Regions from separate parts of the Homo sapiens genome. Here regions 2 and 3 are each linked to region 1. Evidence: fine-mapped expression QTL. A gene starts in region 1. Each other region holds a variant in brackets. All regions are shown on one strand. Distances are from middle to middle.

Region 1 (4,118 bases):
TTTTTCACTTTCCCCTGGTGTACTAAAGAGAAAGCTTGTATAGAGTCTTAATCCATACGGATGTCCATTATATTTAAGGCAGCCTGGTTGTTAAAATAAGTAGCACCATTCAATAAGAAAAACCGATGTTATACATCTATAGATGTATATACTCATTTCTAGAAATACTCATTTCTAGTTATATTGTGCTATTCATTTTCATGCTAATTCAGAAGAACAGATAATAGGGTCTGTAGTAGTTGTAAGCAGCCCTTGAATGTGAAAGTGTTAACAATTTTAATCCAACTCCAAGAGGACCAGAACTTGGCATTCCTTAGATGCAGCATTTAAAATTGTTCCCAGTGCCCTTTGAATGCTACTTTTCCCAGCCAAGGCAGGCTTATGTGGAGGAGATAAAGATGATAGCTTGAGGACTAAGGGTCCAACCCTATATAAATTACATTGGGGGAAATAGGGGAAGGTCTTTGAAGCTCAGAGTCTCTGACTGATATTTTGGGTAGATTTCAACCCTCTGCATTCTCTTCTATTTGTTTCTAGAGAAAACTGTGGTAGAGGCCTTAGTGAATCCCAGAGTCAACATCTGTCATCACCTTTTAGCAGGTAAGGCTAGGCAAACCTTTGAGTTTGGAATGGGTAGGGAAAATGTGGTCCCTCACGATGAGCCTCCCTACCCATTACTTTGCTAGAGGGACTGAAAACCCTTTAAAGACTTGGCCTTGGAAACAGAAGATCTAGGGACAGGTAAGGTGGAAAAAGGAGGTGAACCTACACCCCAAAGGGCTGGAAGTAACACCTTGACTATTTGCACCACGCCAGCAAATAAAGCTGAGAATCAGCTCAGCCCAAGGCCTGGAAAGGAAGCACAAATGCATGAAGAATAACTTGAACCTCATGGTTCTTTCAAAAGTCTCTTCGGCCAAAGTGTGAGTTGAAGAGTCGCATATCATTTGAGACTCTCTACTCATGCTCGCTGTTCTGAGGTTTGACTTTACACAAATCCAGCTCAGCTGCAGAAGCAAGCCACAATGGGGACCTCAGAGTGAGCCTGAAGACTCCCCACACCGCCTCTTTGAAGTCCCTTCCAGGTTCCCCACCCGATGTCCTCTAGCTCATTTGAGCCTTGTCGCCCTTTATGCTATTCTTCCGATATGGGTCGTAATTCCGTCTATCTAGGGTTCTTCCTGCGCGTGCCTTAGAGGCCAGAAGACCCTGACTCACGTGCGTGTCCTCAAAGCCCCCAGCCCCAAGCGTGGCTGCTGGTGGGCGCATCAGTAAACGCGGGTGGAACGGAACAGGCTCCTCCAACCTCTTTTCCACCTCTGATTTCCGTTAGACATTTGCTCCGCACGGCGGCCTCCGCGAGGCAACGTTGGACACTGGGAGGACAGCCGCAGAGGCCCAGGGCGCACTTCCTGCCGGGCGGGGGCGGGGCCGCGCCTCCTCCCTCCCTCCCTCCGTCCTTCCTTCCCCACGTGCCCCTTCCCCGCCCTCCCCGCCCCCTCCCGGGCGGCCGCGGCGCCTCGGGGGCGGGGCCGGAGCGGGTGGGCGGTGTGGCTGTGTGGGCTGGGCGCCGCGGCCGTGCTGCCAGCGGACCCGCGGCGGGCTCGGGCGCGGAGCGGGGGCGCGCGGCGCGGAGCGGAGCGTCTGAGCGCCGGCAGAGACCAGCCGGCGGGTGGCGGCGGCCCCCAGCACGGCCGGTGCAAGGCCTCGGGTTAAGCGGCGGCCGAGCGGGGCTCGGCCCGGGGTGCTCGGGGAGCTCGCCGCGGCGGGCAGCAGGAGGAAGCGGCGGCGGCGCGTCCCGAGCGGTGCGCGCCATGGCGGGCGGGCCCCCCAAGGCCCTGCCGTCCACGGGGCCCCACTCCCTGCGCGACATGCCGCACCCGCTGGCCGGCTCCAGCAGCGAGGAGGCCGTGGGTGGTGACAGCACGCCCAGCCCGGACCTGCTGATGGCCCGCAGCTTCGGTGACAAGGTGGGGCGCCTGGGGCCGGGGAGTGGGAGGCTTATTTCGCTCCCCGTGGGGGGGATGATGGATCCGGAGCCTTCGTGGGCCTGGGGCCGCGCCCACCCTGCCGCCCCTTCCCGGGGGACGGGCGTGTCCTGGCCCCGGAGCCCTCGGCGAAGCGTCTCCTCTGCCGCCTCCGCGGGGTCGCAGCCGCAGAGGGACAGGCTTCGCTGCCTGTGACTGGTCGCAAGCACCGGTGACAGCTGGTGGGGAGGGGTCCAGCCTGCGTGTTGGAGCGGGAGGCGTGTGTTCAGGGCAGGGCGCCTGTGTCCTCGGATGGGGTTCCGAGTTCCTCCAGGTGCATCCCTGCAGGCTGAGCTGCTGCATAACTTGTAGCTCCTCCAGTTTCCGAGACTGCACAGAAAGCAGGAGTTCCTGGCTTTCCGTGCTGGGACCGGGCAGCCCTGGGCTTACAGCGAGAGTCTTCTTCCCCCTAGTCAGTCATGTGGGGAGTGATCTTTGTTTAGGTTTGCTGTTTGTCCTGAGGAGTCACCTGACTCAGACCCCAGCCGGCGGCGGGAGGAGAGCCTCGTTGTGGTTTTCTGTCTGGGGCTCCATTCACCTCCGACGGCCTACCACTCTGTTTAGGTTTGGCAGAGGCTGGTTTTGTGGTTGATGGAAAGAAAGCTCGCCCTTTGACCTTCTTTGTACGGAGGGAGGCTCCAGATTTTCTTAGAGCAGCACAACCCTCCTGCTGCTTGGAGAGACAGCAGAGTCCAGGCAGGGGTAAGGGACGACCTCCTCCCTACCCCCATGGCCATTTCAGCTGTGAAGGAGACTTGAGCAGTGATTGTATCCCCGCTCCTGCCGTCACTTAGTCACTAACTGCAGAAATTAGAATTGTTCTCAGGTCTTGTGATCAAGATTTTCTCTCCCTAGTAAAATACTAAATGAATTCCCCCTTGTCCCAATATTAATGGGAGCAGGGGACCTAACTTTCTTCTCCCGTTAGAGGGGACACCATGTGGTACAGTGAAAAAGGAGTATGAGAAAATATAACCTGCCCTCCTTGCAGTCAGAAGGTCACTGAGCACTTAAAATCACTAGAGAGTGCGACTTGATGTACCTTCTGCAGAGGGTTTGTGAAAGCAGGGAGTGAAGTTCCAAAGCATTAGGAACAGGAAAATTAAAAAAGCTAATGGAGGCCAGGTGCAGTGGCTCACACCTGTAATACCAGCACTTTGGGAGGCTGAAGTGGGATGATTGCTCTGAACCAAAAGTTTGAGACCAGCCTGGGCAACATATCGAGACCCCGTTTCCACATACGCACACAGCATGGTGGCATGCACCTGTAATCCAGGCTACTCAGGAGGCTGAGGCGGGAGGATTGCTTGAGCCTGGGAGTTCAAGGCTGCAGTGAGCTATGATTGCACCGCTGTACTCCAGCCTGGGCAAGAGAGTGAGACCCTGTCTCCAAAAAATGTTGAATAACTGAATAAATTTGCTTTCTTATCGACAAAAATTGGTCTTAAAATAGTGTAGGAACTGGGGGTTAAACCTCATTTCCTTCTCAGTTCTGTGTGGGACACTGAATTAATTATCTATTGCTGTGTAGCAAATTACCCCAAAACTTATCACCTGGAAATAGTGTCTGTGGGACAATCTGAGTGGTTCTGAATTAGGCCTTTCTTGAGGTTGCAGTCAAGTTGTTGGCTTGGGCTGCAGTCATCTGAAGGCTGGATTAGGGGAGGATCCACTTCTAAGCTCACTCACATGGCTGTTGGCAGGTCTTAGTTACTCTCCATAGGGCTGTTTGATGTGGCAACTGGTTTTTCCCCCCAGAGCAAGTGATCCAAGAGAGCTCAAGACTCTAGCCAGTCTTGTATAACTTATCTTGGAAATGACATGCCTCTGCTGTATTCTGTTGGTCACACAGATTGACACTGGTACAATGTGGGGAGAGGGTGTGAATATCAGGGTGTGTATACCAAGAGGTGGGGATCATTGGGCCATCTTGGAGACTGGCTACTACAGATAGCCATTTAAAATATTTACCTAACGATTCACTCATGGATGATACCTGACTCAGAAGTATGAGCATTTTACTAATAAGCACTTGGAAGACAAATTCCCCGTACCACCAAGATCTGGTTAGTGGTGAAGAAGTCAGTCTCA
Region 2 (4,118 bases), 60 kb after region 1:
GCGCCTGGCCCAAAAGACATGATTTTCAAGAGAGGGATGGCCCCGATACCCAGCACTGTGGTCCAGTAGCATGGCCTGTGTGGTTGAAACTGACAATACAGAAGTAGGCTTGAGGGTGAGGAAACAGAGGCGAGCCTTCAATTCCCTTCAGGGTTTATTATTTTCTTGTGTTTAGCCTCATTACCAGTGGTGTGTAAAAAAAAAAAGAAAAAGAGTCATAACACCCCAACTAGTTCCTCTTTCTAAATGCCTCAGTGGTCAACAGAGTCTAAATGCTGCTCCGAGGCTGAATTATGTACAATGCAAAGTGGACGTTAGTTTAATGACACAGTTATTGCTGGTTGTGGTGTGAGCAGTTTCATTGGTGTAGTGATGCAGAACCCAAGTGGGTTAGAGTGAGCGAGGGGTAAGAGAGAGAAGAGTGTTAGAATTCTGGCAATGAAAACAAGCATAGAGAGCAGTGGTCAGAAGTGGGCATGGGTTTGAGGGAGAGGGAGGCTTTTTTTTTTGGACTGCTGCTGTTTTTAAGGATGAAAGAGACTTGTTTAACTGCCAGTTGCGCAGTATTGGTAGAGAAGAAGGCATTAGGTTGAAGATTGGAGAGTAGGATGGAGGCTCCTGGGAAGGCGGAGGAAGCTAGAATTGCCACCGAAGGGGCGGTGTACTTTTTCCATTGTTTGTGGAGAAGGAAGGGAAGTTTGTTTTGTGGCAGGAAGTTAAGGGGTTCTTTGCTTATATCTGGAGTTTTCTCTCTGAATAGATGATGAAGCCTTCTAAGGGTGGGGGTGGTTTGAAGTGGGGATTAGAAATTTTCACAACTTTTATGGGCTTTTTGATAAATGATTTGGACAGTGTGGGAGTGAGCTGACGTAAGGGAGTATGAAAAGGGTGCCTGGCAATGTTGGAGGGTCTGGTTGTAGAATGTATCGTGTCTGTCCGTGTGTTTGCTTGATTTTGTTTCTCCTCTAGCAGTGTGCTCACACACCCAGGTCTGGTAGAGCAAGTGGGTTTTTACGAGTTGGGTGAATGGGCAGTGGGGAGGGAACAACATTTAGATATTGCTGTAAGTGATTGAAGTTCTGGGCCATGGAATGGATGCTGAGTAAAGAAGGAAGGAAGTAAAGACATGAATGGATGGAATGTCAAGGAACTTTAGGTCCCAAGAGGCTGAGAAACCAAGGATGTTGGGAAGAGGAAGAGCCTGAAATATAGGGGATGCCGTTTAGAGGGAGATGTGTGGGTTTCTCCCTGGTGACGGTCTGGGAGAGGCTGTGGAATGGAAGGAAACATTGCTTGCTTAGAGGCTGGTGTTGTATGTATGAGCCACCTGGATCTCGAGGGCACTTAGGTTGTGGAAGGGCTTGGAAAGGAAGCCTGAGAGCCAGCTGCTTGAATCTTCAGGGCATCAGGAGAAATGGCAGAGCTGTCAGTGGATGACAGCTGTGCGGGAGAGATACAGGATGTATGTCACTGGATGGCACGAGCCTCAGAAGGGTTTTCACAGGGCGGTTGGGGAGTGGTGGTCAGGAGCTGTGTGGAACGAGGAGCATGTCAGCAGCAGCTCCTGGCCTTGGGGGCTGGGCGAGGCTTGTGGAATGCGAGCAGCTCACAGAGGGACCGATGGCAGGGAGGCCCGATTCTCAGGGAGAGCCAGGTTTCAGAATTTGAATGGGCAGAAGAACGACAAGACTTTATTAACTATGGCGTGGGTCTTCCAGAGAGCTTGGCAGAAAGATCTGAGAGGAACGAGATAAGTGGAAGTCCATGTTGGAAGAAAGGAAGGCAGAGGAGCGTGAGGATGAAAGGCTGGAAGCCTCTACTTGTCATTCTCAGGGCAGTGGGGTTTTGAGGCAGAATGGGACTAGCTGGTTTTTGTTTGATAAGGGAAGAGATCCCTTTGTTGGGAGATGGGGGTTGCCTAGAATTCTTAAGACCCAGCTGTGGCCTGGACAGATGGCACTTGTGATAAAGACCACGTCTCTCTGGAGTGACTCAATTGTAAATTTTGGATCAAATGGACGTTCTTCGGAACGGCCTTGGGCCACAGTTGTTGGGCATGTCAGCTCTTGGGGCATAAGGGGAGACCTTATGTGGTAGGGTGAGTGGGGCCCAGTAGGTGGAGTGCCCTGCTGGATGACCGATTAGACTGTCATTCTGTGCTGGGTCTTCTAAAATGTTGAACTTCTGAAGGAAAAAAAAATTTCCAGGGATGTCTGGAGATGACCAGGGACGTATCCACGTGGAGTGATGGTGTTACACTTCTAGCATAGCAAAAATGAGCCTTCTTGACTATGATTCTTGTGCTTGGTCACCTGTTCTTAGACCTGACTGTACATGTGCGCCCGTGACCTTG[T/A]GATCTTTGGACATTCTGCATTGTGGACACACGATGTGGAAGGACATAGAACAAAATGATGTAGTGGTTGTCTCTGATTATGGAATTGTGTGTGTATGCTTTTCGTTCTTTTAAAAAATTGTTTACTATAGGTATTCAAAAATAGAGATAAATGTATATTTTTAAATTTTCCTAAGTTAGATCCTGAATTTCATGGAGGAAAAATTTACTACAAACTTATCTTTGGAGTTTTACTGGTCTGCCTGTTTTATGAATACTGTGAGTCCTATAAATGTGTTTCTCTCCAGAAATTCCAAGTAGTGTCTCTGGCCCAGTTTCAGCTGGTGTGCAGTGTTTCATTGTGAGTGTGTTTTGCTAGCCTCATTCCTGGCTCTACTTTTTCCCTCTGTCCTTGTTTTTTCTTTCCTTTTCACCTACTTCTAATTTATGTCATTTGATTGTATTTTACCTATCACTATATCTTTTCTAGAACAAATTGTGGTAAAAATAAGTAAAATAAATACTGGGTCAGAGAGTGTGCAAGCATCCATTTATTTATTTATTTATTTTTTGAGACGGAGTCATCCTGTGTCACCCAGGCTGGAGTGTAGTGATGCGATCTCGGCTCACTGCAACCTCCGCCTCCCAGATTCAAGCAATTCTCCTGCCTCAGCCTCCCGAGTAGCTGGGACTACAGGCATGGACCACCGCACCCGGCTAATTTTTGTGTTTTTAGTAGAGATGGGGTTTCACCATGTTGGCCAGGCTGGTCTTGAACTCTTGACCAAGTGATCTGCCCACCTTGGCCTCCCAAAGTGCTGGGATTACAGGTGTGAGCCACCGTAGTGGACCTTGAGCATCCCTTTCATGATAACTTCTTACGTTATTGCTTTCCAAAGCATCAAGCAGGTTTTTCTTGCTGTATTAAGTTCCCAATGTCCTTAAAGGAGCTTTTAAAAAATGAGCATTGTGTGTGTGTGAGACTATAAAAATAGTGTATGAGAATGGTGTAAAATTTGGAAATAAGAGTGAATATAAAGAGGACAGTTCTCATTATTAGCTTTAAATTTTTCTTCTAAATTTTTTAATATCCAGATATTAATGTAAATGAAATCCTTATGTACAATTAATTTTGTATCCTCCCATTTTCCCTTAAAACAACAGGCCGGGCATGGTGCCTCATGCCTATAATCCCAGCACTTTGGGAAGCTGAGGTGGGTGGATCACTTGAGGTCAGGAATTTGAGACCAGCCTGGTCAACATGGTGAAACCCCGTCTCTACTAAAAATACAAAAATTATCTGGGTGTGGTGGCGCACGCCTGTAGTCCCAGCTACTTGGGAGGCTAAGGCAGGAGAATCACCTGAACCTGGGAGGTGTGGAGGTTGCAGTGAGCCGAGATCATGCCACTATACTCCAGCCTGGTCGACAGAGTGAGACTCCATCTCAAAAAAAACCCCCCAAAACAACAATGTCTTATACCCTGGTTGTGGTGGCTCATGCCTGTGATCCCATCACTTTGGAAGGCTGAGACAGAGGATTGCTTAAGGTCAGGAGTTAGAGACCAGCCTGGGCAACATAGTGAGACGCCTATCTCTACAAAAAAAACAAACAAAAAAACCACCAAAAATCAGCCAGATATGGTGGCATGTGCCTGTAGTCCAGGTACTTGGGAGGCTGAGGTGGGAGGATTGCCTGAGCCCAGGAGTTTGAGGCTACAGTGAGCTATGATTGTGCCACTGCCTTCCAGCCTGGGGGACTGTATTTAATTTTTTTTTTTTTTTTTG
Region 3 (4,118 bases), 86 kb after region 1:
GAGGCTTAACACACCCAACATTATAGTGAAAAGACTGGAACAAGGTCTGTGGAGGTTATGAGCCAGGAACCGTGGATTAAACACACACACACACAAACACACACACACACACACACACACACACACACACACACACCTACCTCAATAGGAAAGGCTGGATCAAGAGCAAAAATGAAGGCCTAAAGAAGGAAGCGAAGAAGGAAGTGAATTCACGAGGTGCCTACACTCAGATACTATAGAGACCTCAGCCTGAAATTGTACATCAAATGCGGAGGGGCTGTTGGGCCATGTTAGCCGCACATTCCACATTCTCTGCTCTATCCTCTGCATCAGGCCACGTCACCAGAAAGCTGTGTCCTTGTTCTGGGTTCCTTTATCTCCCTCTAGTTATACCCTTCTAGGTCTGGGGATTAACATTCTGTTTGTATTGAGGGTGGATATGAGGAACAGACACCTGTACCTTCTGTAAAACCATTTTGTAAGCTACCCTTTCAGTAGGTGACACAGGACAACCTGAAGATTGTATAGATTCCTCTTAGTGTTTGATGATAGGAGGAAGCTTGTTTTATCAGGCAGGCTAATATGCTTTTCTTTTTTGCCCAGGCTGGAGTGAAGTGGCACGATCTCAATTCATTGCAACCTCTGCCTTCCAGGTTCAAATGATTCTCGTGCCTCAGCCTCCTGAGTAGCTGGGACTACAGGTGCATGCCACCATGCCCAACTAATTTTTTTTTTTTTTTTGTATTTTTAGTAGAGACAGGGTTTCACCATGTTGACCAGGCTGGTCTTGAACTCCTGACCTCAAGTGATCTGCCCACCTCAGCCTCCCACAGTACTGAGATTACAGGCATGAGCCACCATGCCTAGCCTGGCTAATAAGCTTTATATTTAGATACAATGGGTTATGAAACTCAACATATTTCCAGTTTTGCCTTCAAGAAATCCAGGGTTAAAATGTTTTGCTGTTTACAGCATCCATCCTAGGCCTGAGTTTTCTAGCAATGTTTTTCTGCCACTGTTTCCTGCTTTCCACCCTTTACTCCCCTTATATGGCTTTAGTTGGGGTATAAATAAATGAGTGATGGATCTCGGAACCTCTGCTCTTCAGTTTTGCTTGTAAAGACAATATAGGGTACTTTGTATGGGAGAAACAGATACTTAAAAAAAATTATGTTAGAAACAGCATTGTGTTTAAAGGGCAGTGTGCTCAGGTGAGTGAATTTGATTAAGGATTGGCGTTCAGCTCTGCTGAAAGGGATTTAAGTGTCAACCTACAGGAGCCTGAGTCTGGTGGTTATGACGTCCAGGCCAGGTTCCTCCTGTGAATGTGATTAGAGCCTCTAACTCAGCTCCTTGTTTCCCGAGTTCTCCATTTCCAAACTGAAGCTGCTTTTAGAAGCTGTTTTATTTAGTCCTGCCCATGTGAGTGAGTGAGTGCTTTGAGCTTATTCACATATCATCCTCAGGACCTGAACGCCTACAAGAAGCAAGGGATAGCATTGCTGACCAGAATGGGCGAGTCAGTCAAGCACGTCACTGGCGGCTACAAGCTGAGGACTCGGCCGCTTGAGTTTGCTGCCATAGGTGACTACTTAGATACATTTGCACTCAAACTGGGAACCATTGATCGAATAGCCCAGCGGATCATCAAAGAAGAAATAGGTGAGCTGTCTGTTGAGGTCTCGATTATGCCCTGCAGCCACATTGGCAGAAATGCCATTCATGTGTGCTACAGAGAATCAAACTGCAAAATGCTGGAGTGACAGAACTAGGCCATCTTTTGCTTATCAAAGAAATACAAGGAGGGGAGGAGTTACTTGTGACTGGAATGTCACTTTGCACCCCGTCCTTTGTCCTGCTGTGTCAGCCTTGTGTTTGCTTTTCCCATGGCCAGCACTGCTGATTCGCCAGGTGTTTCCT[C/T]TTTTATGCTCTCTTAACTTTAGCTTTAAAAGTGGAGACATAGACTCAACTGCCCTTCATCCATAGGGAACAATAATTTAGTAAACAAACTTAGATACCTTTTCTGGCAGAAAGATGGTTCAGAAAGATAGCATGGAGACCTGTGTTTGCCAAAGTTATGACCCTGATGAATCTTCAGACTTGTAATTGACTCACCCACCCCACCGTGGTTCATTTTAAACCCACTCCTGCATGGGGGAGTTGCCAGGGCCTGTATTGATCCTTCCTCGTTTTTGCCTCCACTTCCTTCCCACCCCTCTCGGGGCCACCTGCTTTGCCACATCCCATAATGTTGGGATCTTTTATCTCCTTACATATGCATGGGGCGGACAGACGTGAGCAGTGTAAATGATCGCACTGGCATGGGAAGCACGTTGAGGATTCCCCAGCAGTTGCCATTCATCGGTCACTAAGCCATGATGACTGTGTTCTGTTGCAACAATGGCAAGACTCTTGGTGACAAATGATGGGCCAGATTTTCTTTACGGGGGAAAAAAATCAACATTTTTTTTTTCTCATTTCTTGTACTTGTTCCCTCTACTTGACCCACTGATGATACCATGTGGGGCCCATAGGTTTTGGAGATAGCTGTGGATACCATCCACACCTAAGGATCTTGCAGAGTAAATTCTGATGGGATCCAAGGGGCTGAGGTGGCCACCGAGTGATAGAGTGAGTCTGCCAGTGTAAGACCACATCTCTTGTATCAAAATGTTTCCTAAAATTCCATTGTTTATCCATTGTGACTGTTTTTGTTTTTCGTTTTTTGGTTTTTGGTTTTTTTTTTGAGACAGAGTCTTGCTCTGTCGCCCAGGCTGGAGTGCAGTGGCACCATCTCGGCTCACTGCAAGCGCCGCCTCCCGGGTTCACGCCATTCTCCTGCCTCAGCCTCCTGAGTAGCTGGGACTACAGGTGCCCGCCACCACGCCTGGCTAATTTTTTGTATTTTTAGTAGAGATTGGGTTTCACCATGTTAGTCAGGATGGTCTCGATCTCCTGACCCCATGATCCACCCACCTCGGCCTCCCAAAGTGCTGGGATTACAGGTGTGAGCCACCGTGCCTGGCCCCTGATTTTATTTTTTAACCTTTAAAAACATCTCCCTAAACCTATATGAAACTCTGCCTCCATTGCCTGTTAAAATACTGCTTCACACTATGGGTAGGCGAGTGGTTCTTTTCTTTTTTTTTTTTTTTTTTTTTTTGACGGAGTCTCGCTTTGTTGCCCAGGCTAGAGTGCAGTGGAGTGATCTTGGCTCACTGCAACCTCTGCCTCCTGGGTTCAAGCAATTCTCCTGCCTCAGCCTCCTGAGTAGTTGGGACTATAGGCGCCTGCCACCACACCCGGCTAATTTTTTTGTATTTTTAGTAGAAACGGGGTTTCACTGTGTTAGCAGGATGGTCTCGATCTCCTGACCTTGTGATCCACCCACCTTGGCCTCCTAAAGTGCTGGGATTACAGGTATGAGCCACCACCAGGCCAGCGAGTGGTTATTTTCGAAGATGTTTGGTGGATGTGGCTGCTACTGCTTTTCCCCATAAGGCCCATTATCCAGAGGGATGGCATTCCCATCACGGGATGGAATGGATTGATGTAACATGAGCTGTCAGAGGTTTTTAAGCAGTTGTGCTAGAAACAGTGTTGTGTTTAAAGAAGAGTGGGATCAGGTGAGTGAATGGCCAAAGAAACACATGTTCATGTAGAGAGCTCTTGGCTGTGGTGATTACTGAGTCAGTAATAGCAGCAACTGCTACCCAGCCAGATTTTAATTAGTTTCTGTTCCCTGTTCAGAGTACCTTGTGGAGCTGAGAGAATACGGGCCTGTGTACTCCACATGGAGCGCCTTGGAGGGTGAGCTGGCTGAACCCCTGGAGGGTGTGTCAGCTTGCATTGGGAACTGCTCTACAGCCTTAGAAGAGCTGACAGATGACATGACAGAAGACTTCCTACCTGTGCTCAGGGAATATATTTTATACTCTGACTCCATGAAGGTAAGCTGGCTTGCTTCTTGTGTATTTGCATACTTTCTTTGTAATAGCAGTTATCAGAAAGTAATGGATTATTGCCTGTTTGCATGTGATATAAGTTTCCTTCTTCCTGGGTGGGCAGGATCAGACACGTGGACTGACATCATGGACATATAAATGGAACACATGGTG

Alleles and levels. Positions count from the first base shown, and alleles are read on the strand shown. Sizes are in standard deviations (SD) of each study's normalised expression. Not every link is listed here.
In carriers of allele A in region 2, the expression in monocytes of the gene that starts at base 1,573 in region 1 tends to be higher than with T alone (moderate effect, 0.44 SD a copy in Fairfax 2014).

The links. PIP is the estimated chance that this variant, and not a neighbour inherited with it, causes the effect.
Region 2: its variant is the best candidate, but not a certain one, in a credible set for the expression of SNX30 in monocytes (Fairfax 2014, PIP 0.66).
Region 3: its variant is the best candidate, but not a certain one, in a credible set for the expression of SNX30 in monocytes (TOPMed, PIP 0.55).

Annotation. Positions count from the first base shown.
Region 1 is chr9:112,749,188-112,753,305 of GRCh38, forward strand. It overlaps SNX30 (sorting nexin family member 30), which reads left to right and starts at 1,573. Exons shown (of 9, transcript NM_001012994.2): 1 at 1,573-1,970. The coding sequence starts at 1,815. SNX30-DT (SNX30 divergent transcript) reads right to left here and starts at 1,378. Exons shown (of 1, transcript NR_186503.1): 1 at 1-1,378. RefSeq lists a silencer at 1,331-2,150 and enhancers at 1,420-2,341, 2,342-3,261.
Region 2 is chr9:112,809,370-112,813,487 of GRCh38, forward strand. All of the region lies in intron 2 of SNX30 (sorting nexin family member 30), which reads left to right. Among named protein-coding and RNA genes, the nearest start is that of SNX30, 61 kb to the left of the region's middle. RefSeq lists an enhancer at 1,181-2,091. The variant T/A (reference allele first, on the strand shown) is at 2,354.
Region 3 is chr9:112,834,748-112,838,865 of GRCh38, forward strand. SNX30 (sorting nexin family member 30) reads left to right here. Exons shown (of 9, transcript NM_001012994.2): 5 at 1,467-1,662; 6 at 3,751-3,950. Among named protein-coding and RNA genes, the nearest start is that of SLC46A2, 54 kb to the right of the region's middle. The variant C/T (reference allele first, on the strand shown) is at 1,921.